5 linked regions of the Homo sapiens genome follow. The protein of the gene in region 2 purifies or fractionates together with the protein of the main gene of each other region. This does not show direct contact. Each region holds a gene or a part of one and is shown on either strand. Other genes may lie near its edges. The genes, in order: ZER1, EXOG, MAGEA10, ECD and FEZ1.

Region 1 (6,621 bases), on a different chromosome or scaffold from region 2:
TCTGTCACCCAGGCTGGAGTTCGGTGGCTTGATCTCAGCTCACTGCAACCTCTACCTCCTGGGTTCCAGCAATTCTCCTGCCTCAGCCTCCCAGGTAGCTGGGACTACAGGCGCCTGCCACCATGCCCAGCTAATTTGTGTATTTTTAGTAGAGACAGGGTTTCACCACGTTGGCCAGGCTGGTCTCGAACTCCTGACTTCAGGTGATCCGCCTGCCTCAGCCTCCCAAAGTGCTGGGATTACAGGTGTGAGCCACCGTGGCCAGCTAATTTTTGTATTTTTTAGTAGAGATGGGGTTTCGCCATGTTGGCCAGGCTGGTCTCAAACTCCTGACCTCATGATCTGCCTGCCTCAGCCTCCCAAAGTGCTGGGATTACAGGCGTGAGCCACCACGCCCAGCCTGAGACCCTGTCTTAATTAAAATATATATATATATATTGTGGCTGAGCACGGTGGCTCACGCCTGTAATCCCAGCACTTTGGGAGGCCGAGGCAGGTGGATCACCTGAGCTCAGGAGTTCGAGACCAGCCTGGCCAACATGGCGAAACCCTGTCTCTACTAAAAATACAAATATTAGCCTGGCATGGTGGCACGTGCCTGTAGTCCCAGCCACTAGGGGGGCTGAGGCAGGAGGATCACTTGAACTCAGGAGGCAGAGATTGCAGTGAGCCAAGATTGTGCACTGCACTCCAGCCTGGGCGACAGAGTAAGACTCCATCTCGAAAAAATAAATAAATAAAAATTATTGTTTGATCCTTTCGTAGTTTATAAGAGTGATGATTAGGTCTTCATGCTCATGTGTGAAATGTGCCTCCCTCAAACCATGTTAGGACGTTGGCATATTGCCCATCTGAAATGAAAAAAAGTTTTTGTTATATAAATATGTTGGCTGGGTGTGGTGGCACATGCTTGTAATCCCAGCACTTTGGGAGGCTGAGGCAGGTGGATCACCTGAGGTCAGGAGTTCAACACCAGACTGACCAACATGGCAAAACCCCGTCTCTACTAAAAATACATAAATTAGGCAGGTGTGGTGGCATGCACCTGTAGTCCCAGCTACTTGGGAGGCTGAGGCAGGAGAATCACTTGAACCCGCCACTGCTCTCCAGCTTGGGCAACAGAGCAAGACTCCATCTGAAAAAAAAATTTGTTGGCTGGCCAGGCGCAGTGGCTCACATCTGTAATCCCAGCACTTTGGGAGGCTGAGGCAGGTGGATCACCTGAGGTCAGGAGTTCGAGACCAGCCTGACCAATATGGTAAAATCCCATCTTTACTAAAAATACAAAATTAGCCGGGCATGGTGGCGCATGCCTGTAATCCCAGCTACTCGGGAGGCTGAGACAGGAGAATCACTTGAACCCGGGAGGTGGAAGTTGCAGTGACCCGAGATTGTGCCATTGCACTCCAGCCTGGGCAATAAGAGTGAAACTCCATCTCAAAAAAGAAAAAAATTGTTGGCGGATAAGGGAGATGTTCATATTCATGTGACAACACAGTTGAAGTAAAAATCCACCATATACAAACAGTATGCAGTTTGTGTATCCCATTTACAAAATATGTGTGCATAGGCTAAAATTCACAATTGATATCCCATGTTAATGGTGCCTGTCTCTGGGTAGTGGGTTTATGGGTGATTTTTATTTTCTGTATATCTGTAATTATAACTTTTCTATAATAAAGGCTTTTATTACTTTTATATTAAAAGCAGCTGTTGGTAAGAAATCCCCCAGCAGAGTGTATGGGCAGAAGGGCTGAGGAGACGGCACAGGCAGGGAGAAGGGCAGGGTCCCTGGGCCCCCACCCCCACATGGGGCAGGGAGGAGGATGGAGGGCAGCCAGGAGTGATGGACTGTGGGAAGGGCCAGGTCCCAAGAGTCAGGGAGTGCTGCTGTGGGAAAGGGAGCTGGGACAGATGCAGCCCAGAGCCGGGGGAGCCCTAGCGGGACGCAAGAAGCAGGAAAGGGGTGGCTGGGCCAGAGCATGCGGGGCCGTGGCGGGTGGGGGCTCACCGTCACCTCCTGGTAGGATTCCATGCCATTCAGCACCACCTGGATAACCTGCCGGCGCAGCTTCACACTCTGCTCTGAGCGGTACTCGGAATTTGTTAGGTAGAAGAGAGCGGCGCTGCCTGTCACTTGAATGTTCCTGTCATATTTGTGGCACTTGAGGGCCGTGATGACCAGCTGTATGAAGACAAGGGGGACCTGGGCTGGCAAGTGCAGGGAGAGGCCTGGGCTCTGCAAGGGGCTGGAACAGGCTCTCTGGGGCAAGGTTTAGCCTGGTCTTGCTCTCTAAAGGCAGAAGTGGGGCCTGGGGAGCAGACACCAGGGTGGGGACCAAACAAGGCCAGTGCTGAAGCAAGTCAAGTGCTGTGAGGCCCAGGCTGGGGTTCGGGTCCTGGGGCCCTGGGGACAGGGTGCAGAAGGACACAGGCTCTGGGGACACGGCTCAGCCAAGCCCGGCAACCTCCAGGTGGGGAGGGACAGGAGGCCAAGGCCCCAGGCTTGGAGCTGACCTTCAGGGCCCGCAGCAGCTGGTTGCAACGCTCGATGCGGGCGATGTCAAAAAGCAAGTTGATGGCCCGCGAGGTGATCTCAGGCCGGTGCTCCGTGTAGGCCTCGATGGCATTCAGCACCTGCTCTTCGTTTTTGTCACCACTTACCTGCGGGTGGGACACGCTCAGAACAACCCAGCAGAGGCCAAGGGCTGGGATGCCAGATCCCAGCTCAGTCTCCAGCCCCAGAATCCAGCTCCTTCTCTCTCCCAAGGCTCCCTGGCCCAGACCCATCCCACTTCCACTGCTCACTTTGTAGGCTGGAATGTGCGTGAGGCGGCACAGAGAGTTCTCAAAGAGCCCGAGGAACTGCAGCGGCCTCTTCAGAGCCCGGAAAGGTATGATGCTGCTCTTGGAAGGCTCAATGCTGGGGAAAGAGGGTGCCGGTGTCAGTGGCTTGGGACCCAGGCCTGAGCTGGGCCTCCCCACTGGGGGTGGTGAGGCATTTCCTTGCTTTCTCTTCTAGGCCCTCCAACCTCATCCCCTACTCCTTTTGTTTTTAATGGTAGGGGACATAAGCACCACCTCCTGATGGAAGCATGGCAAAGCCACATAGTAGGGGAACACATAGGATGGGCAATGCAGCCACCTTTAGAAACCACCTGCCATTCTAGTAAGGACATGGCACCTTTAGGTCTCACCAACAATCACAAAGGGACAAGCTCAACTGAACACCATTAAAGCAGGCTGGGGCCAGGGCTTATGGGTGGCCAGTTACAGCTGGTAGGGTTTGGTCAAACTTCTCAACCAACCAATCCAAGAACCGACCTATGTCCAGCAATACTCCATAGGTGGCAGACACTGCCAGCCTTGCCTCTTCCCCCCATGGCACTGTGCTCTGGTCAGGCTGAGTGTTGGGTAGTTCCCCTGTCGCTCCTCATGCTCTCACCTACTGGCCTTTGCAGGTGCTGTTCCCTCTGCTAGAACACGCTTCCTCTGGCAGAGGCAGAATGAGCTTTCAGGACAGCCAGGATGCGTCCCTCCTCCTCCTTCCTTCCTGATCCTCAGGCCACACCGGGGCCCTGGATTGCCCCTACCATAGCCCTTGTAATGACTTGATTGTCCCCACCAGCTCACACAGCCTCCAAGAGGGCAGGACCTGATTTGTTTCTTTATCTCTAGCACCCAGCACAGCACTTGGCAGAGGGGTACTTGGCAAATACTTTCTTTTTTTTTTTTTTTGAGACAAAGTCCCACTTTGTTGCCTAGGCTGGAGTGCAGTGGCGCGATCTCAGCTCACTGCAGGCTCCGCCTCCCGGCTTCAATTCTCATACCTTAGCCTCCCAAGTAGCTGGGACTACAGGTGTCTGCCACCATGTCCAGCTAAATTTTGTATTTTTAGTAGAAATGGGGTTTCACCATGTTGGCCAGGCTGGTCTCTAACTCCTGGCCTCAAGTGATCCGCCCATCTTGGCTTCCCAAAGTGCTGGGATTACAGGCGTGAGCCACTGCGCCAGCCTAAATGCCTGTTGAATGACACCCTACCAGTAGCCATGGAGGCTGGGGCCCCACCTGGTCTGCCCCGCTTCCTCTTCCATCTTGGAGATGCTGCAGTTCTCTAGGATCATGTGGCCAGAGATGTCCAGGGACATTAGGTTCCCCAGCTTCTGCACAAAGAGGCTCAGCACCTCCCGAGTCAGCTTGAACTTGTAGTAGCTGGAGAGGCGGTCTCGGGAGATGTCCAGGTGTCTGAAGATTGGGGTAGGGGGTGCAGGTTAGGAGCTGGGTACAGGGTGGGGCTGCCTTGCAGATCCCAGCTCCTTTAGTCTGTAGCAGGGGAGGGCCCATTCCTGCCACAACTTCCCCAGGGCATTCTGGGAAGAAACCCCAAACAGCCCCAATCCAGCTGAAACACTGGGTTTAAGGAATGGGACTGTGTCTTCATCCCCACCCTCTGCCTAGCCAAGCGCTCCTGAACCCTGAGGGCGTGACAACACCCACCTCTACTCCTCCCCACCTGCCCCCCAAACCCCACCCTGGTGAGCTCTGGGCCAGGAGCTCACCGCAGCTTGTGCAGCTGCACGATGACCCGGATGTGGTCGTCGGACAGGTCCATGTTGTAGAGGACGAGGGACACCAGGCTGTCTTTCCACTGGGTGAGGAAGGCGGCGTCGCTCGTCTGAATGCCTGAGAGGTCCAAGGCAGCCAGGGAGTTAAGCGGCCGCAGCAGGGACTCCACAGGGACCCAATCAATCATGCGGCCCAAGTTGAGGAAGCGGAGGCGGCTGAAGCCCTCGAAGGTGAAATCCTTAACCAGCACCTGGCAGGTGGGGTTGACGAGGTACTCATCTTCACAGCCCCCTGGGTTCTCCTCCTCATAGAAAATGTTTGTACAGCCGAAGAGGCTCAAGGACACCAGGGTGTGGCTGAAGCTCCTCAGTGTCTGCAGGCTCTTGGCGGACAGCTTCTCGCAGTTAGTCAGGTACAGCTCCACCAGGTCCTGGGAGTGGGCACAGCTCCATCATCATCACCACCCTTGCCCCTTCCCCCGGCCCCAGGCCTTGCCCTGGGCTACAGGTGGGTTGGAAAGGGGGATGTGCACAGTCACGGTGCACACTGGCTGGGCTGGGGATGGCTGGGCTGGAGGCGAGCAGCCTGGCCCCTGCTTGGTGTGGGCCCTCCTGGCGCTGTGGCGGGGCAGGTCTCACCTGCTTGCGGATGGCCTCCAGGTCCTGGTCCTGCACCAGGTCCTCACGGAGGTGGATCCGCGTGAGGCGGGTGCTGCGGGGGTCCGAAAAGAGGCTGAAGAAGCTCTCGTGTGGCTCGAAGTTACAGGCAGCGTTCACCAGCTCCACATACCTGGGAGAGAAAAAAGCCTGGCTCAGGAGAGGGCCACAGGGACTCTCATCCTCGCTTCAAAGCCAAGCCCTCCTCCCCCTGAAGCTTTCTTGGATCACCCCAAGTAGCAACCTCCTTCTCCTAAGAGTATCTGGTCAGATCCTGACTAAACTACCAGTAAGATTAAGGGTGCCCAGGAACCAGGAATCTAAAGGCAGCTCTCTGGGAGACCTTCTAGGTGATGCAGGCGCCATCTCTCCCAGTGCACATGCCTGTCACACAGCCTCCACGCACGCACACTGCAGGGGCAGCAGCCCCACTGGCATGGCCACTCTCGTCACCTTCTTTAAGCCCCTCCTGCGACCCTTTTAAACAGGCAAACTAAGCCAAGTAGTTCAGAGTTCCCAGCTGGGTACAGGACAAGCCCTTAATGAAGCCCTGTTGAGACATCAGCTCATGCAAGAATCCTGGTCTGCTGGGAAATGCTTTGGATTCAAACGCTTTAGACTCTAAATCTTGGCTTGGCTGCTTCCTACCTGGGCAACTTCACACAAGTAAATGAACTTTCCCAGACCTCAGTTTCTTCATCTGTAAAGTGGATATAACTATGGCCTGCAAAGTGTCCAACCTAAAGCCTGACCCACGGTAAATGCTCAGGACGTTATTACAGGTCCACCTCTGTCCTCAGGCCCACACAGGCTTCTAGTTTCCTATGCAGCTGTCTAATAATTTCCCTTCTGGGAATCTTTTTCTTTTTTTTTTTTTGGTAGAGACAAGGTCTCGCTATGTCACCCAGGCTGATCTTGAATTTCTGGTCTCAAGTGATCCTCCTGTCTTGGCTTCCCAAAATGCTGGAATTACACGTGTGAGCCACCATGCCTGGCCACCATCTGGGCCTGTAGATTGAACTCCCAGCATTCAGTGACTGCATAGCATGCTTCTAGGAGCCCCTAGGAGTGGGGAGGCCCTCGGAGGGCCATTCAGATTTTCTGGATGATTCACTCCCTGATCATGGATCCGTTATTCTGGCACCGGCATGTACATGCATATGTGGCCATGCTCACTGAATTCACAAGCACAGGTATGTGCATGTGAATGTACATACACGTGTGGGGCAACACTTAATTCCTTCATTTATATGCAGATTTTGACACAATCACATCTCTAAATGCACACATGCAGTTTCACAGTCAGAAATAACCTGTGCTGCATAAGCTTACATGTGTACACACACCCATGCCTTCACGTGCACACCCCTCCACACACACACCAACACACACACATATA
Region 2 (6,621 bases):
TGATTTCTTCACTTAGCTTCTGGAACATCACTCTCCCCTAGATTTCTCCTACCTTAAAGGCTGCTCCTCTGACTCTTTCGCTGGATCTTCTTCTTCCTGACCGCTAATGTCCAAGTGCTCCAGGGTTCAGAATTCAATTGATTGTTCTCTCCTGTCTATATTCACTTATATAATCTCATCATAGCTTTCAACATCATCAGTGTGCTGACCACTTCCAAGCACATCTTAAATCATACCACTTCTCACCATTTCTACCACCACCATCCTATTCAAGTTATTATTTCTCATGTAGACAATTCCATTAGTCTCTTAACTGGCCTTCCAGGTTCCACACTTTCTTCTGTTCTTCACAAGAAGCCAGTGTGTGCTTTAAAAATGTAAACCAGATTATGCTACTAACCTGATCAAAACACTGTTTAAGTGTCCCATCTCACTTAATACAATCCACATTTCCTGCCATTGCCTCCCTCTATAATTTACCTTCTTCTCCTCCTCATGCTTACGCTGCTCTAGTCACACTGAGCAGAGCACTGCTCCTTGAATGTGCCAACCTCAGTTTCACCCGTGTCTTGCACTCGCTCTAGCCGAAAAACTGTTCATATGGCTTGCTCCCTCACTTCACTTAGGCTTCTGCCCTATCTCACTTCCCCTTGTCTTTCTTTCCCACCCTAATACAATCCTCTACCGTGCTTTATATTTCTACGAGGCATTTTACTTACTAGGTATCTCCTCCACTATAATGCATGCTCCATGAGGGTACTCTTTTCTGCCTTGTTTAATGCTGTATCAGAAGCACCCAGAACAGCACCAGGTACCTAGTAAAAGCTTAGTTAAGTCTCTGTTGAATAAAAGGAAGGAAAGAAGAAAGGGAATGAAGGAGAAAGGGAAGGAGGGAGGAAACAAGTAATCCAAATTAAAACAGAAAGTCAGAGGGCTCCAAGAATATATTTTCACGAAAAAACTAATTTACCTTTTTAAAAAATCATATGATAATATGCTTAAATGACCTAAATTATCTGAATTAGAAAGTATTTTTAAAAAGAGCAATTATAATACACTGCCACCCTTACCTTCCACTTCTGTTTTTCCGTTGTTTGTGGTAATATTTCTCTCTCAAGTGGCACAGATTTAATGATATAGAATTATATCTATTTCCTTATAGGTCCAAACATACTACATACACACTTATAATAATATAAATGCTGGTTAAATATTTTCTAATAGATCTTGGATTACAAACTCAAAGACCAACAAGGGCTAGACAGGAAATGTAAGTGAGTAAAATGGGGCAGGTAAAGACTACAGTGATTTGAAGATGTGTGTTCAATCTAAGGAGAAGGTTGATACTCTTGTCTAGTAAACTGGCTGCCTATGGGAGTATATGCCAATTGTTACGGAGTCATCTGATTTAAGAGAAGCTAAAATCTGGATTTATGTGAAATCTCCCAATTATTAAACATTATAAACTAATTAAAAAATAACATACAGTCAGGTGTGGTGGCTCACGCCTTTAATTCCAGCCCTTTGAGGGGTGGAGGTGGGAGGACTACTTGAGGCCAGGAATTTAAGGCCAGCTGGGGCAACATAGTGAGACCCCCACCTCTACAAAAAAGAAACTTAAAAATTAGCTGGGCATGGTGGTGCATGCCTGTAGTCGTAGCTACTTGGTAGGCTGAAGTGGGAAGATCTCGAAAGCCCAGAAGATAAAGGTTACAGTGAGCTACGATCTTGTCACTGCACTCCAGCCTAGCAGACAGAGCAAGACCCTATCTCTATGAAAAACTTAAAAATATATATATATATACCATGTGAGCCAAATAAAATACCTCTATGGGCTGGACTTGCCATAAGAGGCCTCAGTTTACAAACTCTGCTACAGGCAAAACTCAGACTACATTATCGTTAGCAAACATAAATGTAAATGCTACAAACCTTGACAAGTATAAATGGTAGATCAAGATTAGAGGTTCAAGTATATTATGTAAAGTATATGATGCAAAGTTTACCAACGGAAGAACTAAAATTAAGTATATATGACTAGCAGAGTATAGTGCAGTGCAAGAAATAAACAATAAATTTCATAATTTTATAGAGATAAAGTAACTGTTAATAAGCGACAGGTCACAAGTTAAAAATATATTTTAGTGCTCATTATTCTGAGATATAGAAATAAGTGCCAAAACAAATAAAAACTGGACAGTGGGATAAGGAGTATAAGTGAGACTTTACCTTTTCATGCTGCTTTGTACTGTTTGAATTTCATTACAATGTCATATATTTCCACAATCATGTTTTAAGATTTAGCATTTTTATCATTATGCACATATAATTGCATAATTTAAAAATTTTTCAAGTTTAATTTCAAGGAAAGATAGTTTGCCAGTTATGACTTTAATGCCATGAGCGAAAAAAAAGCATCAAGACTAAACCGTGTTTAATGTAAGTATCTAATTTCACAACTCCTAACATAACATGAACTCATGAACTCAAAAGCATCGACTTAGAAGACTACAAAAATTGTGCTTTAAAATTAATAAAGAGGCACCTGACTTTTGGGCTTCTGTAGATAAGAAAGGAGAAGTAAAAAAGAATCTTAGAAATCATAGGTTTATGAGTACATGCACCAAAGAATACAAAAAACACTGGTCTTCATTCTTATGTTAGCCTCCAAAGGAGTAATAGTAGCTAATATTTACTGAACATTTCCTATGTGCTAACTACCAAGCTAACGATGATACTAGCAACTCGGTGAGGTAAACACTACTACTATCCAAATATCACAGATAAAACTGAACTTTAAAGAAGTTAGGTCATTTTCCCAGGACCACATGCAAGTAAGTATCAAAGCAAAGATCCAAGGCCAGATCTGACATGAAATATGTGCTTTTAACAACTATAACCACCCTGCCTTTCCTACTATTGCAAGATAAAGGGATAAGCTCCAAGTTAAACACCAGAAATTTCTCCTGTGGTCTACTACCGGTAGGTCTGAACTTCCTTACTAATTCTAGTACCCTGTCCCATGCTTTGATAAGAGGAGACATGTCAAATTAACATCCTTTATAATTTGGTCCAAATTTCACTTTATCTTGCAGATATTATTTGAAAAATTCCTTGATACAGGACTGTGAACATTCCCTAATTTCAGTATAAATGAAGTTTCCTTTTCTGTTCTTTTAATGTTATTCCTTTTTTTATGGTTCCGAGGATTAGGAAAGTAACAACGTATACTTTCTCTGTCATGGTTTCTGTACTCCAGATAGACTGGTAGCCAACGCAATTGGAGGCAGAGAAACCCATTAGAGGCCTCTGCAATACTGCAGGTGTTCAGAGCTTCGGTATGTCTAAGTAAAAGTTATTTTAAAAAAAGAGAATTAATAAAAGTTGTTGGTTCAAAGTAATTAAGAGTGAGAGATGACTGCCAGGATGTGAAATACAGGAGAGGAAGAAAGTAATCAAGAATATAAGTTTGGAGCATGCCATTTACAATTCTGTATACCTTCCTCCCACATGACAGGTACTTGAAAATTTGCTGAACGGATGACTTACTGAATTAAAGATTTGCCAGTGTGAACATGCATAGGTCCTATAAATTAATAAGAGACATGGAAAACTAATGATATGACCTTAGAAGCCCAGAATCTGAAAGAGAATACCTAAGACCAGCAAGTCTTTAAAATAAAAACAAGAAACAAGACTATTACTCAAAGTATACTCTTCAGGAAGCTGATCTTGACTGACCTCACATGACTGATCATTATGACACTAACTAGGGTGAGGAGAGCTGATAGGTCTCTTTTGAAACTCTTTAAGGCTAGCTTGAACATGTTTGAGTATCATTTCACTGATAAACTATTTTAATATATCTTTTAATATTTTATTTAAATATCTATATAATATTTAATATATAATTTTAAAATTCTGAATTAATTAAAAGCTTAGCATTTGTAAGAACAGCACAAAGAACTCCTTCCTTTATATCCTTCACTCAGATTTACCAATTGTTAACATTTTGTTCTATTTGCTTTATCACTCTCTTCTCTTTTCCCTAAACTTTTTAAAAGTCACAGGCACACCATTTTACTCCTAAACACTTCAGGATATGACTTCCTAAGAGCAAAGATATTTACTTACATATCACAGAACAATTTTAAAAATCAGGAAATTTAATACTGAAAATACACAATTATCTAATTTGTATATTAGATAACAGACCTCGAATGTTGCCAATTCTCCCAATAACATCCTTTTTAGCAACTTTTTTCTGGTCTAGGATCTAATCTAAGATCATACTACACATTTTGTTTGCATGACTCTTTAATCTATTAATCTGGAACAGATAGTTTCTCAGCCTTTGTCTTTTATGACACTAACACTTTTGTAAAGTAGAAGTCAGCTGTTTCACAGAATGTCTCTCAATTGGGGTATGCCTGATATTTTATCCTGCTCAGTGCATCACACCAGGAGTACAGCGTTTCACTAAGTCCCATTACTAGCAATACTAAACTTGATCACTTGGGTAATGGGATGTTTCTTCACTGTAAAGTTATTTCTTACTTTGTGATTAATAAATAATGTATGAGGAGATACTTTTAGATTATGTAAATACCCTATTCCTCATAAAACATTCACTCACTAGTTTTAGCTAGTGATGACTCTTGCCTGAATCAATTATGGTGATGTGTGCAAAATGATTTGTATAACTCTTTCATTCTCGCAAATTTATTAACTGACATTCTATGGTATGCAGAAGCTTTTCTTTACACCCTATGTATTTACATATTTATTGAGTATGTATTCTTATTTAATTCAATAGGTTTATAATCCATTTTATTTTGATATTCAATAGCACCAGATACAGTAAGTGGGAGCTCCTTCAAGCTGATTCACATGTCCTTCTGACATATCCCCACCATTTGTCTGAGCACTTCCTTGGCTTTCTGATATATGATGTTCCATTTTGTACTCTCCCTGTACCACCCCTTAAATCAGTCATTTCTCTAAGCGCTGAGTCTTTTCAGGAGATGCTTTTTAGAAACAAATATCTGGGTCTCAAGATGTGTTCATTGCTAATGACATACCAATTCTTCTGGGCCTTTTCAGCAGAAACAACTAGAAGATATATTTTTATCAGTTCTATTTTTAAAAATTATATCCAACTTAAGAAAAACAATACATTTTCCACTACGGCATTTGGGCAACACATATTTTACAGAAATAGCCACACAAAAATCTATGTAGTGAAATGCTTGTAATTATTGGTTAATTTTTCGTTTTAAACATTGTACAAATTTTTGTTCTACTACACAGTAGGCTAGTGATATAAATTTTTCAATTTTATAAAAACAAAGCACAAATAAAACTGTAATTTAACCATTTAAGATATACAAGTCAAAGCTAGAAGAGCCTCTTTTCTGACATAAAATAAACAGGATTTAACAAAGACCAAGAATAATTAATATTTGAAAAATAATACAGGGGGCTTTAAGCCTTTTTTTCTCCTAAGACTATAAAATATACTAAAATTAAATTAGCAAGTTAATCAGAGGAGAGAAATTAATATGGGAGGAGAGATATTAAATGAATTAATTTTAAAATACTAATTCCTTTGACTTCCTTCACTCCCATATCTACTGGAATTTTCCAAGGATGTACAAATCCTTGAAAACAACTACTCTATCATTTCCACTTAACAAAAAGAAGTAGTTGGGTCATAATTTTGTGTGGAAAAAGAGAAAGTGGGCTATTCATATGGACCTATACAAATCCTTGGATGCTTGGACATTACTGCACATCTGATCTAGACAGGCTGATAATAAGCAAGTCAAATGGACAGAATATACTCTAAAAGTTTTGGTTTTTTTTTGGGGGGGGGGTGGTTCCTCAATCTGTTCCTCAGGTTATTAAATTTTATCACAGACTTAAGTAATCATTTACCTAACCAGCATTTATTAAATATCTACTTTATTTCCAGAGCTGAGCTAGGTGTTCCCTCCCCTCCTCTTTGGCCTTATTAGCAAGTCCTTCAGTGCTTCTTTTTACTCACTCTACCACCTCTTCTGCTTCACTCCACCTGTTCCCTGCCCTCTGTAAGCCTCACAGTATAGTATAACATTTCAGCCACCCTCTTGGAAGAATCCTCAGGATATTTCTGCATGATAAGATTAAATGTTAAACTTTTTCTAAGAACACCTGCTCTTCAGGTATACCACTTTGTAAATTGCCAATATGAAAGGCTAGCTAAGAATTTCCCAGCAACATTAGATGTCTGAAGCTCTCACACCACTAATTACACTCTCCTATCTTTAATCTCTCTTTCAGTCTATAAAAGTGCTCACATATCTTGCATATTAAAAAAAAGAAGCTTCTAGAAGAAAAGCTTTTCTTCCCATTTATTCAACTCACTGTAACACTGTAATCTGGTTGTTTTTATTTTATTTTTATTTTTATTTTTTTCGAGGTGGAGTCTTGCTCTGTCGCCCAGGCTGGAGTGCAGTGGTGCGATCTCGGCTCAGTGCAACCTCCGCCTCCTGGGTTCAAGCGATTCTTCTGCCTCAGACTCCCAAGTAGCTGGGACTACAGGCACACGCCACCACACCCAGATAATTTTTGTATTTTTAG
Region 3 (5,889 bases), on a different chromosome or scaffold from region 2:
GAGTCTCAGCTGTTGATCATCAGTCAGCAACCCACACACATAGCCCAACCTCTATGGAGGTTCCCCAGGGGATAATTCATCAGCTCAAGTAGGCATAAAGACAGGTCCCAGCCCTGGGATGCTGGCAAGGGTGCACAGGACCACTGGAGTGGTCAAGAGAGGTAGCTCACCCAGAATGATGCAGGGAGCCAGCCATACTCTTCCTGACAGAGGGAGGGGAATCTTGAATGAGCATAAGGTGTCCAACATGCCGCTGATGCATTCAGCCAACAGGCCTGCCCATTCAGATCACACAGCCACATCCTGTTGATGATGATAGTGTCCAGATTTCTCAAGCCTATCCCTGTTTGTTGCCGTGTCCTCCTTCACCACTTCCCACTTCTCTCCCTCAGGTCTCTGCCCCCACCGGGCTGAAATCTGGATTCAGAGCTCTCAGTGGCAGCCTGCCTGGGGCTCTGTGGACTTGATTTCACATGTGGTCTCTCTCGTGGACTCTGGTAATTGCTCTTCCCTGCATCCTCCTAATGCCCCTTGCCAGCCGAGGGTGTCCTGTCTGCTCTCCTTCCCCGGCTCCTGACTAAATCCTTTGAAAGCAGAGGAGAAGTTGAAAGGCCCTTTCAACATAAATTTCTACATAAATTTGACTTTGGGCACTGATATTTAGACATCTGCTATAAGAGAGATTTCCAGGAATGGGACAGAACACTCAGAGTACTTCTGCAGAGTGTAGGCATGCTCTGTGTCACAGGGTGAGCAGGCGATTCTAGGCTTCTCTACTGTGTTCTGGGCACAGCCTTTAGCAGAGACCACAGTGACAAGCTAGGCAGCAATCCAAGTTCCAGATTTGGGTAGGAGGGAACACTGGGGACAACCAGGGGAAGGGTGCTGTAATGTGGGGAAGTGCTGGCTCTGAACAGAAATGCCAGCTCCTGGGTACAGTCAGCTCTCAAGGAACCCTGGGGATTGACACAGTAGGTCCCTGGATTAATAAGGTCCACAGGCCACCCTGAAATGGTGTTTGATTCTCATTGTCACCTTCTCTAGGCCTACGACTGCTACCTTGGCCTCAGAGTCCCTATTTTTGTCACCTGAGAGACATGGTACAGTGCTGAGAAGAGAAATGAAGTACTATTCAAGAGGTCGGCCTCAGGCTGGGAGGAGTGGGAACAGCATGGGCTCTACAGGAATTCAGACCCACCAGGAGTCTGGTTCCAGCCCTATTCCTTACTAGCCATGTGATTCTGGGAAATGCCCAAGTCCTGTGAGCCTTGGGTTCTTTATCTGTGAAGCAGGTGTGATAAGCCCTGTCCATTAGGACTACTGGAGTGTGTGCAATATAAGTGAAGAACCTGGCTCAGGGCCTGGCATAGTTAGAAGTTTAATGAATGGCAGATGGCTGTTATTTCTAATATTATTTGACCTCAGACCCCACCACAGTCTTCTCTGGAATTTTTGTCATTGTTATCCAGTACATCTCAGAATATGCAGCTCAGTGGAACATGGAATCCCAAATCAGTCACAAATGTTGCTTCACATATAAAACTCAGTAAATTTTCCCTCTTAGAGGATATATTTTCAACATTTCATGTGCAGGAGTTTCTCCCTGCTGGATGCTGCTCAAAGTTCATGGAATTTGAGTCAAGTATCAACTCCTTCCCTCTCTCCAAGGTTCTTTTCCATCCAAATCATGATTTTCATTCATTTCATCACCACTCAAAATCTAGCCCTTGCTTAGTGTTGTTCAAATTACACTAAAAATAACCCAATTAAAATGTTTCTCTAATGGAGTCAGCTAACTTCTAGGCATCAATTCATAGGCTTATTTATTATGAGATCCTTATCTCTCAGGAGACCCTTGCATATGATGGGTATCTATCACCTAGTTATTTTTTTAATTTAATTAGGAGTTCAACTGCACTGAGACAAGAGTGCAGAACACCTTCCATTCCTGCCCCAGGTGGACTCCTCTCTGTTCATCCACCACCCAAAAGGAACTGCTCAGAGCAGTTTTACATCCCAGGATTTGCTCTGTCAACTATGTGAGGCTCTGACCCTGGCACCACCCAGCTTCTTTGGATTCATCTTCACCAGAAGGAACTGCAGTTTCTCAAAGCCCCAAAAGTCCTGGCTCAGAGGATGTACGTGACCACTCTCACCTACAGCCCAATACCCTCACCCCGTCTTACTTTTCTTCTGGGTCTTAGAGGACATCTTGCCACCTTGTTACTTGACTGCAGCCCCTAGACTCTACCACCCTATGGGTAAAGGTGGTTCTGGCTTAACATTTCCACTACAGACCCAGGGCCTTCCACAGACCAGATGCTCAGTGGATGTTTGGGGAAAAAATGCACTAGTGAGCAAAGGTTTCATTTATTACAGTTTAATTTCGACTTAACAAGATCCAGGGATATAACTTTTAATTTTGCAGGATGATAAACTAAAAATAATAAAGAAATAAAAATACTAACACTTAAAATTATTTTCTCTATTTTACTATTTTTTTCATATTTCCAAGAAAATTACTATTCCAATTCCATGTTATTTTATTACAGATTACAAATATGATGGAAGGGTTCCCAATTTGTTTTACAAAATAGCAAAACTGTTTCTTAAACTGGATAAACAGAAACGAACGTGTGACCTTAGATTCTGAAGCTCATAAACATTCTAGTAAAAGTAACAACATTTTAAAATACCAAGAAGAGGCTGGGTGCAGTGGCTCACACCTGTTATCCCAGCACTTTGGGAGGCTGAGGCGGGCAGATTACCTGAGGTCAGGAGTTTGAGACCAGCCTGGCCAACATGGTGAAACCCCATCTCTACTAAAAAATACAAAATTAGCCGGGTATGGTGGTGCACACTTGTAATCCCAGCTACTCAGGAGACTGAGGCAGGAGAATCGCTTGAACCCAGGAGGCGGAAGTTGCAGTGAGCCGAGACTGCACCACTGCACTCCTGCCAGAGCAATAGAGTGAGACTTTGTTAAAAAAAAAAAAAGAAGAAGAAGAAAAAGAAAATAAAATACCAAGAAGAAAAGAAAAGAAGTCCCCAGGTTATCCAAAGAAAACAGTAAGACAAAGATGTTATGCACTGTATTTTCCTCAGCCTCAGCCTGGCCCTCCACCACATACATCATTGATTTCCATTCTCATTTGTTTTCATAAATTAAAAAAAAACAAAAACATAAACAAAAACTGACATGTAATTGTAGATATTTATGAGGTACAATTTGATGTTCTGATTCATGTATATGTAGTATAATGATCAAATCAGGTAGTGTATCCATCACCTCATGCATTTATCATTTCTTTTTGGTGACAATATTGAAAAGCCTTCCTTCTAGCTGTTTTGTAATATACAATATCTTAATGTTAACTATAGTCATCCTACTGTGCAATAGAACACTAGAACTTATTCCTCCTATTTAATTGTAATGTAACTACTGCTCTACTCTCTACTTCCATGATACCAACTTTTTTTTTTTTTTTTTTTAGATTCCACATATGAGTAAAATCATGTGGTATTTGACTTGCCTTTTAAAACACAGTGAAGAATCTGTCTTACTTTATTCAGGGTAGGAGAAGCTACCTGTAGCGCTAGAACTTGCACTGGCCATGGCAGTAGTATCATCTGTGGTGGCAATTCTGTCCTGGGCTCTCTCTTCCTCATCTTTCAAAGCCTCCTCATACCACAGTGGGAAGGATCTTGGATCACTCCCATTTACCTTGGCCAAAAATTTCAGGAGACTCATCTTCCTAATTTCAGCATGAGCCCTTGGACCCCACAGAAACTCATACCGTGCAGGATCACTGCCAGGCACCTGCCGGTACTCCAGGTAGTTTTCCTGCACCCAATCTTGGGTGAGCAGCTTCCTGGGCTCCCCATAAATGAGGTGCTCCATCCCATCATACAGCCCCATCATATTCAGTGCTTCCCAGATGACCTCCTCAGGGGTGCAGTAGCCCTCTATGAAGACTATGCTTAGGATAAGTATGAGAATGCCAGTCTTGGGCATGCTCTGGACATCACTCAGCATCCCATCATAGGTGAGGCCCAGGGAGGTGACAAGGACAAAGGAGTGGCCAGTGGGATCCACTTCCTTTACATCAATGCCAAAGACCAGCAGCATGCACTCGGAGGCTTCACTAAACAACAAAGGGAAGTGGTCTTCATAATTTCTTATGACACTCTCCAGTATTTCTGCCTTTGTGATCGGCTCCTTCATTTGATACTTGAAGAGCAGAAACTGCACCAAATCAGTCACCTTTTCATCTATCTCACTTCTGGGTAAAGACTCACTGTCTGGCAGGACCTGTAGGGTGCTTGGACTCTCCTCCTTTTGGCTGCTGGAGCCCTCATCAGATTGATCTAATGGAAGGGAAGCAACGACCGAGGGGGAGGAGCAGGCTATCTGAGCACTCTGGGGAGGATTTGGTGTCTCATCATCAGCAGAAACCTCCTCTGGGGTGCTTGGTATTAGAGGATAGCAGGAGGAGGAGGAGGAAGAGGAGGAGGAGGGAAAAGAGGATGGAAAAGAGGAGCTGGTGGAAGTGGATGATGAAGCATCCTCCTCCACAGCCAGGGGAGCCTGTGCACCCTCGAGGCCCTGTGTCTCACTTTGGGATTGAAGATCTTCTTCAGGCATGCAGCGCTGACGCTTTGGAGCTCGAGGCATGATGACTCTGATCAGGGTAGCAGGTGGGAGTGTGGGCAGGACTTGGGCGATGGGGACCCACAGGCCTGGGGAGAGAGGGAGGGTGTAAGTGGCCACAGCTGAGAACCACACCCTGGAGGTTCTAACAAAGGCCAACTTACAGGTCTTCTCCTTCAGTGCTGCTCTGTGGTGTCCCACAGCTCTTGACCTCTTGCTCTCCCTGTCCCCTGAGAACCTGAAGAAGGAAGTGAGAGATGGCTCCTCAGGATGCAGCCGGCAGAGGCCAAGGCTCCAGGACTGACAGTAGGGTAGGTGGAGCTGATGCAGTGGGGTCCACTTTGTCCTGGAGCAGGTGGGGCCCTTGGTACACATTCAGGGCATGCACCTCACCTTGACTCCTGGCACTGTCTGGGCCCTTTCTGCTCTGTGACCTGAAAACACTGCCTTAGACCAAGGCCTCACCTCACAGTCCCTGGAGCTCCTGAAAGAGGAATTGAGGGGCCCTCAGGGTTCAGGCTGCAAGCACAGCCCCAGCCTCCCAGTGTTGTCAGGAGGGTGGGCTGGACTCTGTGAGTTCCCCACTACCCTGGGGTGGGGAGCCTCTGTGCTCACGTGGGGCTCTCACCTTTCTCCTGGAAAAGCCTAGACCCTGCTCCTTTGCTGGTCTAAGAAACTCTCAGATCAAAAGCTTACATCCCTGATACGAAATAGAAGACATGAGGGGACCCACATCTGGCCACAACTGCAGAGGTCCTCCCAGAAAAGACAGCAAGAGGTGGCCATATTCAGCTGGGTCCATGTGTACTGGGGTGAGGAGCCTGCTTGGTCCTCTTCTTGATGCCTGATACGACCTGGGACCCTCCCTTTGTTGATCTGAGGCCACTTCCTTAAACCAAGGTCCTACCTCCAGGAGACATGGAAAGAGGAAGTGAGGGGAGTCCATCTACCCCCAGTTCCCCATGAATTCCCGTGGCTGACAGAAGGGGTAGGGTGGGGCTGAGTCCTGTGCGTTTGGAGAATGGTGTCCCCTCAGTCCTCACCTTGACTCCTGGCAGGGTCTGGGACCCTCCCTCTGCTGACCCGAGTGCAGCTCCCTTAGACCAACACCTCTCCCTCCCAGAGACCAGTGATCCTTGTATAAGACAGGGAGACTCAGCGGACAGCCCTGACTGGGTTCTCCAGAGTGACAGTAGGGTCATGGCAGATTTCTGTGGGGACCCCATCTGTGTTATGGG
Region 4 (6,621 bases), on a different chromosome or scaffold from region 2:
TATGTTGTAACATGATCTTTTGGTTTATATTCGCATTAAAATTTAAGAAATACTGCTTTAGATAAATCTAATGTATGGTTTCTACTAGATTTTGACAATTCTGGAAGTGACTATAGTTTTAAAAGTGGTTTAGATGATCAAAGCAAGGAGAATTAACATTAATTAAAGGCCTATTGTAGGTTTTACTGCTGTCTAATTTGGTTCTCATGTTAATTTTATGATATGAGGATTACTGGTTTATAGATACATTCACAGTGGACAGCTGAGCTAGACTTCAAACCCTAACCCATAAGACTCCAGGGTTCTTGCTCTTTCCATAATACCTCTGTTTAGGATTAGACAGTGGTGGCATTAAAAACTAGGATGAAAACATAAACGGAAGGTGAATCCTAAATTTGGCTCTAAATTAGGGAAAAATACAAAATAAACTGTTAAAACTGGAAAGTTATTTGAATGTTTAAGATCCTGTTTATTTACTTATGTTATTTTGTTTTAATCCACTGTGGCCCAAGGCATAGTCTCAAAAGGTCTTGAGAACATGTGCCCTCTCTTTTTTAAAATCCATTTAAGCTGTAGTTTTTTTAAACTACTTTTGAAAAAAAATGTATTTAAGAAGTAGTAGTGTACAATCGCATTCTAATTTGAGCATATTATATGACTTTTTATTTTAAATCCTGATAGATAACGTAGAATAAGTAATATAATGAAGCTTATGTTTTGGAAAATTAAGTCTATGATCCTTTATCCTACCAGAGTTAGGAAAACAATTAACATTCTTATTTATTTCAAATCTCACACACCAAAAAAAGAAAAACTATGATAAAATATGGTTTTAGCTATCTGACATACTAGACTCAGAAAGAGAAAGAGGTTAAAAACACACATACCACTTGGTTCCTAGTGGTGAAACTTTTGCTGATGCAGGTGTGTGCTAGTTCCTGGTCCATCTGGGCCATGTATGACTTGAGATTATCAAGTGTTCCTTTCAGGGAAGCCTCTTCGCCAGGTTCGTGTGTTTCAAAGTCCAAGTCATCATCACTATCTAAACATTCAAAGTCTTCATCATCCAGATCATCAGAATCTGACTCATTAGGCCTTGGCCCTACACAGATCCCAAGAAAGAAAGAGCCACTTAGTAATTATTATTATTATTATTATTATTATTATTATTTAGTTACTACACATCTCAAAATAATTAGAATGTTACCCACAGAAAAAGACTAATACACACAGTCAGTCTACTTCACAAAAATCCCTTCTACAAATGGTAATGCTGGCAGATATGTGTGCATTTAATGTTGTGGAAAAGCGTACAAGCTGAATCAAAAGATTTAGCTTAAAAAAAAGTGAATTCAATTAATTAAAATATTTTTCTTAAAAAATTTTTAAAAATACCTAATAAATGAATACATTTTGATGTAAACATTCAAGCCATACAAGTATTGTCTCCAATCTCACTCTCTCCCCAGAGGTAAGCATCTTTTAGCAGTTTCCGGGTATCCCAATCTTTCTCTCTGCAGTTCTGTACATATATACATATTATAATTATTTTTTGAGTTATCTTTTTATTACTGATTTGTAAGTACAGTAATTCCAAAAAAGAACAATATAATATGGGAGCCAAGGTAAAACCCTATTTAAACACACAGCATTCAGTCACTCTCAAATATTTAATGAGGCCGGGCACGGTGGCTCACGCCTGTAATCCCAGCACTTTGGTAGGCTGAGATGGGCGGATCATGAGGTCAGGAGATCGAGACCATCCTGGCTAACACGGTGAAACCCCGTCTCTACTAAAAATACAAAAAAATTAGCTGGGTGTGGTGGCAGGCGCCTGTAGTCCCAGTTACTCAGGAGGCTGAGGCAGAAGAATGGCATGAACCCAGGAGGCGGAGCTTGCAGTGAGCCGAGATCGTGCCACTGCACTCCAGCCTGGGCAACAGAGCGAGACACTGTCTCAAAAAAAAAAAAAAAAAATTAATGAGCAGCTACTATATATGTCAAACACTAAGCTAGGCAGCCTCTACAAAATTATTCATGGGTAGTAATTCATGGTTGAAAGCAACTCAAACCAGGAAGAGAAAGCAAACATTTTGGCTTCTGAGATATCTCATAAACCAATGCTCTAGCAACAGCCATACTACTAACAGTTTCAAAATGAAAGTCAACATCACACCACTACTTACCTAAAATCTTATCAAAATAATTAAGAAAAGAATCTGCATCAAAAGTGATTGGAGCCTCAGAAGGTTCTCTGCAATATTAAAGGACAAAGACAATTAATTTATTCTAAATACAACTCTTTGAAACTTTTCTAAAGTGGTGCCATTCTTAGGAAAGCTACCAAAGATAGAATTTCTAAGGAGGCACAGCAAGAAAAGTTGTAGTTTAAGTTTTAAAAATCCTTGAGTTTACTGGCCTTGCAGGACAACAGAAATGGGAAAGTCTGATAAATGAAAAGTAAAAATTGCATCTTGTTTATGTACATTTAGCTTATGCTGATTTAGGGACCTACCCACTCTCTAGCCCCAATAAGATATCTAGCATTAGCAAAACCATTATTTATTTGAGTTAATTTAAATAAAGCCTGTTCTTTTAAGAACTAAAGCTTAAAAAATAAACAAGAACATATCTTCCCTTATCCCTGCTTTCTTAAAGAGAGAATACCAAATATAAATTTATATCTTTCATCAGGTTCAAGAGCATCAACACTAATAATGATATATTTGATACACAAGTAACAGTTTTTTTTGTTTTGTTTTTTTTTTGAGACGGAGTCTTGCTCTGTCACCCAGGCTGCGGTGCAGTGGCACGATCCCAGCTCACTGCAACCTCTGCCTTCCGGGGTCAAGCGATTCTCCTGCCTCAGCCTTTCAAGTAGCTGGGATTATAGGCGTGCGCCACCATACCCGGCTAATTTTTGTATTTTTAGTAGAGATAGGGTTTCACCATGCTGGCCAGGCTGGTTTTGAACTCCTGACTTCGTGATCTGCCTGCCTCGGTCTCCCAAAGTACTGGGATTACAGGCATGAGCCACCGCGCCCAGCCTACAAGTAATAATTCTATCTACCTGTTTTTCCTGTTATTTGCCAAATGTAGTTTCATATTTCTGTTATTATTTCTGCCTCTGATGAATTCCTTTTTCAGTATCCAATCTGCTTGCAGGGTGGGAGATCAGAGGTCTGAACTTGTTGAAAGTTAAATGTTGAGCCCATAAAGCTACTAAAGAGTAAAGTATATGGTTTCCCTGTGTGGTTCTGGATGATGGTTTTTAGGGTGATCTTTCTGGCTTATTTCAAGGATTGCAAAGGATGAGGCTTCTAGAAATCTGACTTCAAATAAGTAAGTTATCACTATACTAGGCACAAAAAAGAAAGCAAGCAGTACAACTCATTTACTCAAAAAAAAAAAAAAAAAGTGGAAATGGCAATGACTATGACTTCAACATTTGGGTTCTAGCTATTTATATATTTATACTTTAACACAAATTACCGAGGCAGCTCTGCTCCCTTGTGGGTTGAGACTTTGGATATGAAAGCTTTCATGCTCTCTGAGACTTCAGTTAAGTCATAGTTCTGCTCCTTCTCCTCCTTGGAAACAGACTCGGATTCTTTTTTGCCAACAGCTTCCTGCAGCAGCTGGTCCAGCTGATCTGGTGAGAGATCTAACCACTGGTCATCTGAAAAAGAAGAAAGCATAATACTGCCATTCTACATTCACATAAGTCCTCTTAGGAGAGGATCCTGTGAGACTGAGTAGAACATTTTAATTTTTTTTTTTTAACCCTTCCACTGTATCCTGGTCCATCACTTACCATCCTCTGGGGGAAGATTAGCTGCTTCTTTCTTAAGGTCTTCTATATCAAATGGTATTGTCTGTAATAAGGTTAAGATTTCTTCACCAGGGCTCATAGCAAGAGAACTATGAAAAATAAAAAACATGAGTATTTCTTCATAAGAGAACATAGAATAGTAATCATAAATACATAGTATTTTAAGGTTGGAAGGGATTAGCTAGTCTAATTTGGGGAGTGTTTTTTTTTTTTTTTTTTAAGAGATGGGGTTTCATTGTTGCCCAGAATGGACTCGAACTCCTGGGTTCAAATGATCCTCCCACTTCATCCTCCCAAGTAGCCAGCACTACAAGTACATGCCAAAACACCTGGCTCTAATTTGTTTGTTTGTTTTTAACAGAGTTTCACTCTGTCGCCCAGGCTGGTGTGCAGTGGCGCGACCTCGGCTCACCACAACCTCCGCCTCCCAGGTTGAAGAGATTCTCCTGCCTCAACCTCCCAAGTAGCTGAGACTACAGGCATGCGCCACCACACCCAGCTAATTTTTGTATTTTTAGTAAAGATGGGGTTTCACCATATTGGCCAGGTTGGTCTCGAACTCCTGACCTCATAATCCCCCTGCCTTGGCCTCCCAAAGTGCTGGGATTACAGACATGAGCCACCGCACCCAGCCTTCTAATTTGTTTTTAAGCATATTTTTAGGTTGCAGATCCCTTTTTCTCAAACAAAACTTTTACCAGGAACTCTAAAATACAGAAGGGGTCAAAGAAAAATGGCCTTCATTAAAGTGGAGGATAGGCCAGGCACAGTGGCTCATGCCTGTAATCCCAGCACTTTGGGAGGCCAAGGCGGGGAGATCACTTGAGGTCAGGAGTTCACTTGGCCAACATGGTGAAACCCCGTCTCTACTAAAAATACAAAAATTAGCTGGGCATTGTGGCACGTGCCTGTAATCCCAGCTACTCGGGAGGCTGAGGCAGGAGAATTGCTTGAACCCGGGAGGTGGAGGTTGCAGTGAGCTGCCCCAGCATGGGCGACTGAGCAAGACTCCATCTCAATAAATAAATAAAATAAAATAAAATAAAAATAAATAAATTGGAGGATAGAAGCTCAGAGATCTACACAATTGGCCTTCCTTTTTGGCTCTGAAGCAGGCTCCATGGAACATCATTATGAAGCCACTGATCTCGTATAATTCTTTCTATACATACATGCAGAGACAGGGTCTCTCTCTATATATGTATATATATGTACATACAGTTGTATTATGTTAATAGTACATATACATATAAAACACGTACTAAAAATACATAAAAATATACATATAATATATATTTTATATACGAGGAAAAGAAGATCCAGAAGGAAAGCATCAATTAAAATTTATCTAGCATGTATTAAATGCTATGCTAACACTTTAAATACATTTTCTTATTGAGTCCTTTTGTTACTATTATAGAAGGTAATAATCCTGTTTTACAGATGAGAAAACCAGAACCCAGGGAAGTTCTTTAACTTTTGCAAAGTCTGTATTACCCAGGAGGCGGAGGTTGCAGTGAGCCAGGATTGTGCCATTGCACTCCAGGCTGGGCGACAAGAGCGAGACTCCGTTGGCCGGGTGCGGTGGCTCACGCCTGTAATCCCAGCACTTTGGGAGGCCAAGGCGGGCGGATCACGAGGTCAGGAGATCGAGACCATCCTGGCTAACACAGTGAAACCCCGTCTCTACTAAAAAAAAAAAAAAAAAAAAAAATTAGCTGGGCGTGGTGGTGGGTACCTGTTGTCCCAGGTACTCAGGAGGCTGAGGCAGATGAATGGCGTGAACCCAGGAGGTGGAGCTTGCAGTAAGCCAGGATCGCGCCACTGCACCTCCAACCTGGGCACAGAGCAAGACTCCGTCTCAAAAAAAAAAGAGACTCCATAAAAAGAAAAAAAATCCTCATTCTTTAAGACTTAACTCAAATACCTCCTCCCTGAAGCCTTCCATTATCTTTCTTTTTTTAACATCTCTGCTTCAACCTTAGTGAAAGTTTATTACCTTCTCACTATGACTCTCTTTAGCATTTGATATTCCAGAATGATTTTTATTTTGCCTTTTGTTATGATTATTTGGTTTATTCTCTCTCCTAGTAACGTTTACATATTAATAATACAGAGTAGAGACAGTTCCCCATCACCTACGTGATTTTGCAAGGTATGCAAATGTTTATCCAATTAAAGCAAGTCCTTTATACAACTTGATTTGATCCATTCTTAATAGTTCAGACAGGGTGCCATCAATTTATGTAACAAATCATGTCACCATTATGTCACTCACTCAACACATAAGTATCTCTGTGCATAGTTTCTTTTTTTTCTTTTTCTAAGACAGGGTCTCACTCTGTCGCCTAGGCTAGAGTGCGTGGCATGATCACAGCTCACTGCAGCCTTGACTCTTGGGATCAAGCAATCTTCCTATCTCAGCAAGTAGCTGGGATTACAGGCATTAGCCACTGTGCCTGGCTATTTATTTATTTTTAATTTGAGTAGCTGGGATTACAGGTGCCCACCACCTCATCCGGCTAATTTTTTGTATTTGTAGTAGAGATGGGGTTTCACCATGTTGGCCAGGTTGGTCTCAAACTCCTGACCTCAGGTGATTCACCCATCTCGGTCTCCCAAAGTGCTGGGATTACAGGTGTGAGCCACTGTGCCCGGCCTATTTGTTTATTTTTAATTGACAAAAAAGTGTATAGGTTTATCATGTACCTTAAAAATATTGTAGAGATGTAATCCCAGCACTTTGGGAGGCTGAGGAGGGCAGATCACAGGTCAGGAGATCGAGACCA
Region 5 (3,898 bases), on a different chromosome or scaffold from region 2:
TCCTTCTTTCCTTCTTTCCTTCTTTCCTTCTTTCCTTCTTTCCTTCTTTCTTTCTTTCTTTCTTTCTTTCTTTCTTTCTTTCTTTCTTTCTTTCTTTCTTTCTTTTCTCTCTTTCTTTCTTTCTTTCTTTCTTGAGATGGAGTTTCGCTCTTGTTGCCCAGGCTGGAGTGCAATGGCATGATCTCGGCTCACTGCAACCTCTGCCTCTTGGGCTCAAGCGATTCTCCTGCCTCAGCCTCCCAAGTAGCTGGGATTACAGGCACCTGCCACCATGCTCAGCTAATTTTTTTTTTTTGTATTTTTAGTAGAGACAGGGTTTTGCCATGTTGGCCAGGCTGGTCTTGAACTCCTGACCTCAGGTGATCCACGCACCTCAGCCTCCCAAAGTGCTGGGATTACAGGCATGAGCCACTGTGCCCAGCCCCCACATCACATTTCTATGTAAGTTAGCTATCCTGGTTTTCCTAGAATTATTTTTAACTTTTTTTTTTTTTTTTTTAAAGATAGGGTCTCACTTTGTCACCCAGGCTGGCATACAGTAGTGTGATCATAGCTCACTATAGCCTCAAACTCATGGGCTCAACCAATCCTCCTGCCTCAGCCTCTCCAGTTGCTGGGATTACAGGTGTGAGCCACCGTGCCCAGCTTTGATTTTTCTAGAATGATTGATATTTATTGGATGCTTTCTATATTCTGCACATTGTACTTAACACTTCAAAGATGATCTCATTTAGTCCAAAAAGTAATCTTCAAGGGAAGCACTGTTTTAAACTCCATTTTATAGATGATGAAATTGAGGCACAGTGAGGTTGATAACTTGCCCAAAGTCTCCCAACTAGGAGTGACAGGACCAGGACAGGAACCCAAAGCCTATGCTCTTAGCCATCACAGAGTACTGCCTTAATCAACACAAATCCCTGGGCTGTGAAAACTGTTTTACTCTCTACTGCATTCTGCCATCTTTTCTAATCTCACTTTTTTGTTGCTCAGGGATTCTTAATCTTTTTTGCACTATGACCTCCTTTGGTGGTATGGAGAAGCCTGTGGGCTCCTTCTCCAAATAATGTTTTTAAATGCATAAAATAAAATACTTAGTCTTGTAAAGGAAACCAATTTCATTGAAATATAGTTACCTTCAAAGAGCCTGCAGGGGTCTATGTACTGAAGATGAAGAACCCCTGACTGGCAATTACTTGTGTTTGCTTTAGAGCTGTGTTGTCCCTTGCGGTAGCCACAGGCCACATTTGACTGTTGAGCACTTGCAATGTGGCTAGTCCAAAGTGAGATGTACTGTAAATGGAAAATATACACTGGATTTCAAAGGGCTTAGTATAAAAAAAGAATAAAAACTGCCTCATTAGTTTTTTTGTGGATTACATTTTGAAATGGTAACACTTTGGATATATTGGATTAAATAAACATATTACTTCAATCAAAATGATTAATTAAATTATTGATTTATTAAAAATAACTCCTAAAGATGTTAACTCTGTACCAACACCTTCCTTATAACAAATGAGGAAATCAGGACCAATGATGCTTGTCACTCAGCCAGCCATTGGCAGATCTGTTGGCTCTCGAGCCTGTCTTCTTTCCAAGATATGGTACTACTTGTATATATTTTTGTATTCAAAGGTCCTATCATGTTGCCTTTGCAAACTGTAAATGCTCCAAATATGTTTTAAAGCAACGGTAATCAACTTAATCCCAGCAAAATCCCGGTACAAACTGGCAGTGTTCTTGCCTGGCATGTCCTTTGCCTTGCTTATTTAGAGTTTTAGTTTTGTAGGTAGAGATGGAGAATGGGCACTCCTAGGGCAAAATCCATGAATTTTGCTGTCTGGTTCCCCTCAGGAAGCGCCTCCAATTTGAGCACCTAACTATATCAATAACCCTATAGACCGAAGAGAAAAGCTTGGTAGCCTTTCTGTTGAGCGTGTAGAGAAGGGTATGATAGTCAGCAATGCTTGTGCTGCCTGAAACTGAAAATGGAAAACTGTATGTGGGAGATAGATCATTTTTTCAACGAGCACATATTGATTGACTGCCTAGCCACAGGGTAGGCAGTGTATATTTGGAGCCAGGGAAGATATCCAGAGGATTTCTGTGTCCTCGAGGAATTTAAGTTAAAATTGAATGGGGCCCAGATGTACACACAGATGGATAAATCACAGTTGGAAGCAGTGCATGAAGATGGCCCGATGAGGGGTAGAGGTCCCACAGTTGGTGGGAACTGAAGGGAGTTCTGTGTGTGCAGCGTTCCAGGGTGCAGTGCCCAAGATGGTTATGGAGTATGGCTTTGGAGCACATGGGTAGTTGGGTCTGTTTCTTACAGGATACAGGATAATAGATCATTTAGTCTATTCCTCTGCTCCTAGGCATATGCTCTATGTGTGGGAAAACCTTGGGTGCTTGTCTGGGCACGGTGGCTCATGCCTGTAATCCCAGAACTTTGGGAGGCTGAGGCAGGTAGATCACCTGAGGTCAGGAGTTCGAGACCAGCCTGGCCAACATGGTGAAACCCCATCTCTACTAATAATACAAAAATTAGCTGGGTGTGGTGGCACACGCAGCTACTTGGGAGGCCAAGGCATGAGGATTGGTGGAACCCAGAGGTGTAGGTTGCAGTGAGCTGAGATCACACCACTGCACTCCAGCCTGGGCCACAGAGTGAAGCTATGTCTCAAAAGCGAAACGAAACAAAAACAACTCAGGCATTTATTGGAAGGTCTCTATTGATGTTTTATTAGTTTTTTTAAAAAAATAAAAATAGAGATGGGACCTTACTATGTTGCCCAGGCTGGTCTTGAACTCCTGAGTGAGCTCAAATGATCCTCCCACCTCAACCTCCCAAAGTGCTGGGATTACAAGCATGAGCCACCACATCCAGCCAATGTTTTATTAGTTTCTACTATTTATTGATAAGGGTAGTAATATCTAGGTATACAAACCCTTATCCAAAACCCCTGGGGCCAGGCATTTGGAATTCAGATTATTTCAGATTTTGGAAAGTAGTAATAGAGTGTACATTCCGCATTTCATCCAGTGGGATCTGGGATAGCAATCTTTGTAATTAAAAAGTTAATATTTCTGCAGCAAAACACACAAAATGGGATAAATTAAAGCCATGAACAGCTTTATATTCATGTTGGTCATGTTTAGTTGCCAGATGAGTTTAGATCATGTCACATTTTGCTGCCAAACAAGTCATGGAGAATTTTCAGCTTTCAGATCACATAGTTAAGGATATGGATCTGTGGTAATAGTAATAGTAATAAAAATAATAATACTAAAACACCAACAGAAAGTATTCAATAATATTGGCACTTATTATCTTCCAGGTACTGTTTTAAGCACTCACCTGTGTTTACTCCTTTAGTCTTCTAACAGCCCTTTGAGGTGGGTTCAGTATTATATCTGTCTTGAGAAGAATAAGAAGCACAGAGCAATTAATCACTTGCCCAAGGTCACAGCTGGTAGGACAGAACAGAATGCAAACCTAGACGATCTTGTCCAGGAGCTTCGTACTTAACCAGTGCCTTGTTTTTTGGAGTAGGGAATTGGAAGCAGGTGTGTCTCTAAAGTTAACTCTATTATTTAGATTAGCCTGGTCTAAACTCACATTACGCTGTTCATTTCTTTTAGATAAACTCATCCTGAAAGTCGCTGTTGTTCTCCTGCTGAGCAAGAATGGAGGCCCCACTGGTGAGTCTGGATGAAGAGTTTGAGGACCTTCGACCCTCCTGCTCGGAGGACCCGGAGGAGAAGCCCCAGTGTTTCTATGGTTCATCTCCCCACCATCTCGAGGACCCCTCCCTCTCCGAGCTTGAGAATTTTTCTTCCGAAATAATCAGCTTCAAGTCCATGGAGGACCTCGTAAATGAATTTGATGAGAAGC

What was found.
Region 1: the proteins of EXOG (region 2) and ZER1 purify together in Homo sapiens (affinity purification with mass spectrometry; one large-scale study listed by BioGRID and IntAct). This does not show direct contact.
Region 3: the proteins of EXOG (region 2) and MAGEA10 purify together in Homo sapiens (co-immunoprecipitation; one large-scale study listed by IntAct). This does not show direct contact.
Region 4: the proteins of EXOG (region 2) and ECD purify together in Homo sapiens (co-immunoprecipitation; one large-scale study listed by IntAct). This does not show direct contact.
Region 5: the proteins of EXOG (region 2) and FEZ1 purify together in Homo sapiens (co-immunoprecipitation; one large-scale study listed by IntAct). This does not show direct contact.

What each region holds. Positions count from the first base shown.
Region 1 is NC_000009.12:128,748,605-128,755,225, forward strand, and holds part of ZER1 (protein zer-1 homolog), read right to left. Parts: intron 5,356-6,621; coding exon 5,205-5,355; intron 4,997-5,204; coding exon 4,560-4,996; intron 4,246-4,559; coding exon 4,069-4,245; intron 2,924-4,068; coding exon 2,809-2,923; intron 2,665-2,808; coding exon 2,518-2,664; intron 2,186-2,517; coding exon 2,012-2,185; intron 858-2,011; exon of another isoform or gene 754-857; intron 1-753. UniProt on the Homo sapiens protein: Serves as substrate adapter subunit in the E3 ubiquitin ligase complex ZYG11B-CUL2-Elongin BC. Acts to target substrates bearing N-terminal degrons for proteasomal degradation with the first four residues of substrates being the key recognition elements.
Region 2 is NC_000003.12:38,507,967-38,514,587, reverse strand, and holds part of EXOG (nuclease EXOG, mitochondrial isoform 1 precursor), read right to left. Parts: intron 839-6,621; exon of another isoform or gene 720-838; intron 1-719. UniProt on the Homo sapiens protein: Endo/exonuclease with nicking activity towards supercoiled DNA, a preference for single-stranded DNA and 5'-3' exonuclease activity.
Region 3 is NC_000023.11:152,130,946-152,136,834, forward strand, and holds the end of MAGEA10 (melanoma-associated antigen 10), read right to left. Parts: intron 5,136-5,889; exon of another isoform or gene 5,045-5,135; intron 4,890-5,044; 5' UTR 4,816-4,889; intron 4,741-4,815; 5' UTR 4,676-4,740; coding exon 3,566-4,675; 3' UTR 2,365-3,565; downstream 1-2,364. UniProt on the Homo sapiens protein: Not known, though may play a role in embryonal development and tumor transformation or aspects of tumor progression.
Region 4 is NC_000010.11:73,135,817-73,142,437, forward strand, and holds part of ECD (protein ecdysoneless homolog), read right to left. Parts: intron 5,670-6,621; coding exon of another isoform or gene 5,571-5,669; intron 3,922-5,570; coding exon 3,815-3,921; intron 3,680-3,814; coding exon 3,493-3,679; intron 2,255-3,492; coding exon 2,187-2,254; intron 1,103-2,186; coding exon 888-1,102; intron 1-887. UniProt on the Homo sapiens protein: Regulator of p53/TP53 stability and function. Inhibits MDM2-mediated degradation of p53/TP53 possibly by cooperating in part with TXNIP. May be involved transcriptional regulation. In vitro has intrinsic transactivation activity enhanced by EP300.
Region 5 is NC_000011.10:125,489,570-125,493,467, reverse strand, and holds part of FEZ1 (fasciculation and elongation protein zeta-1), read left to right. Parts: intron 1-3,645; 5' UTR 3,646-3,690; coding exon 3,691-3,898. UniProt on the Homo sapiens protein: May be involved in axonal outgrowth as component of the network of molecules that regulate cellular morphology and axon guidance machinery.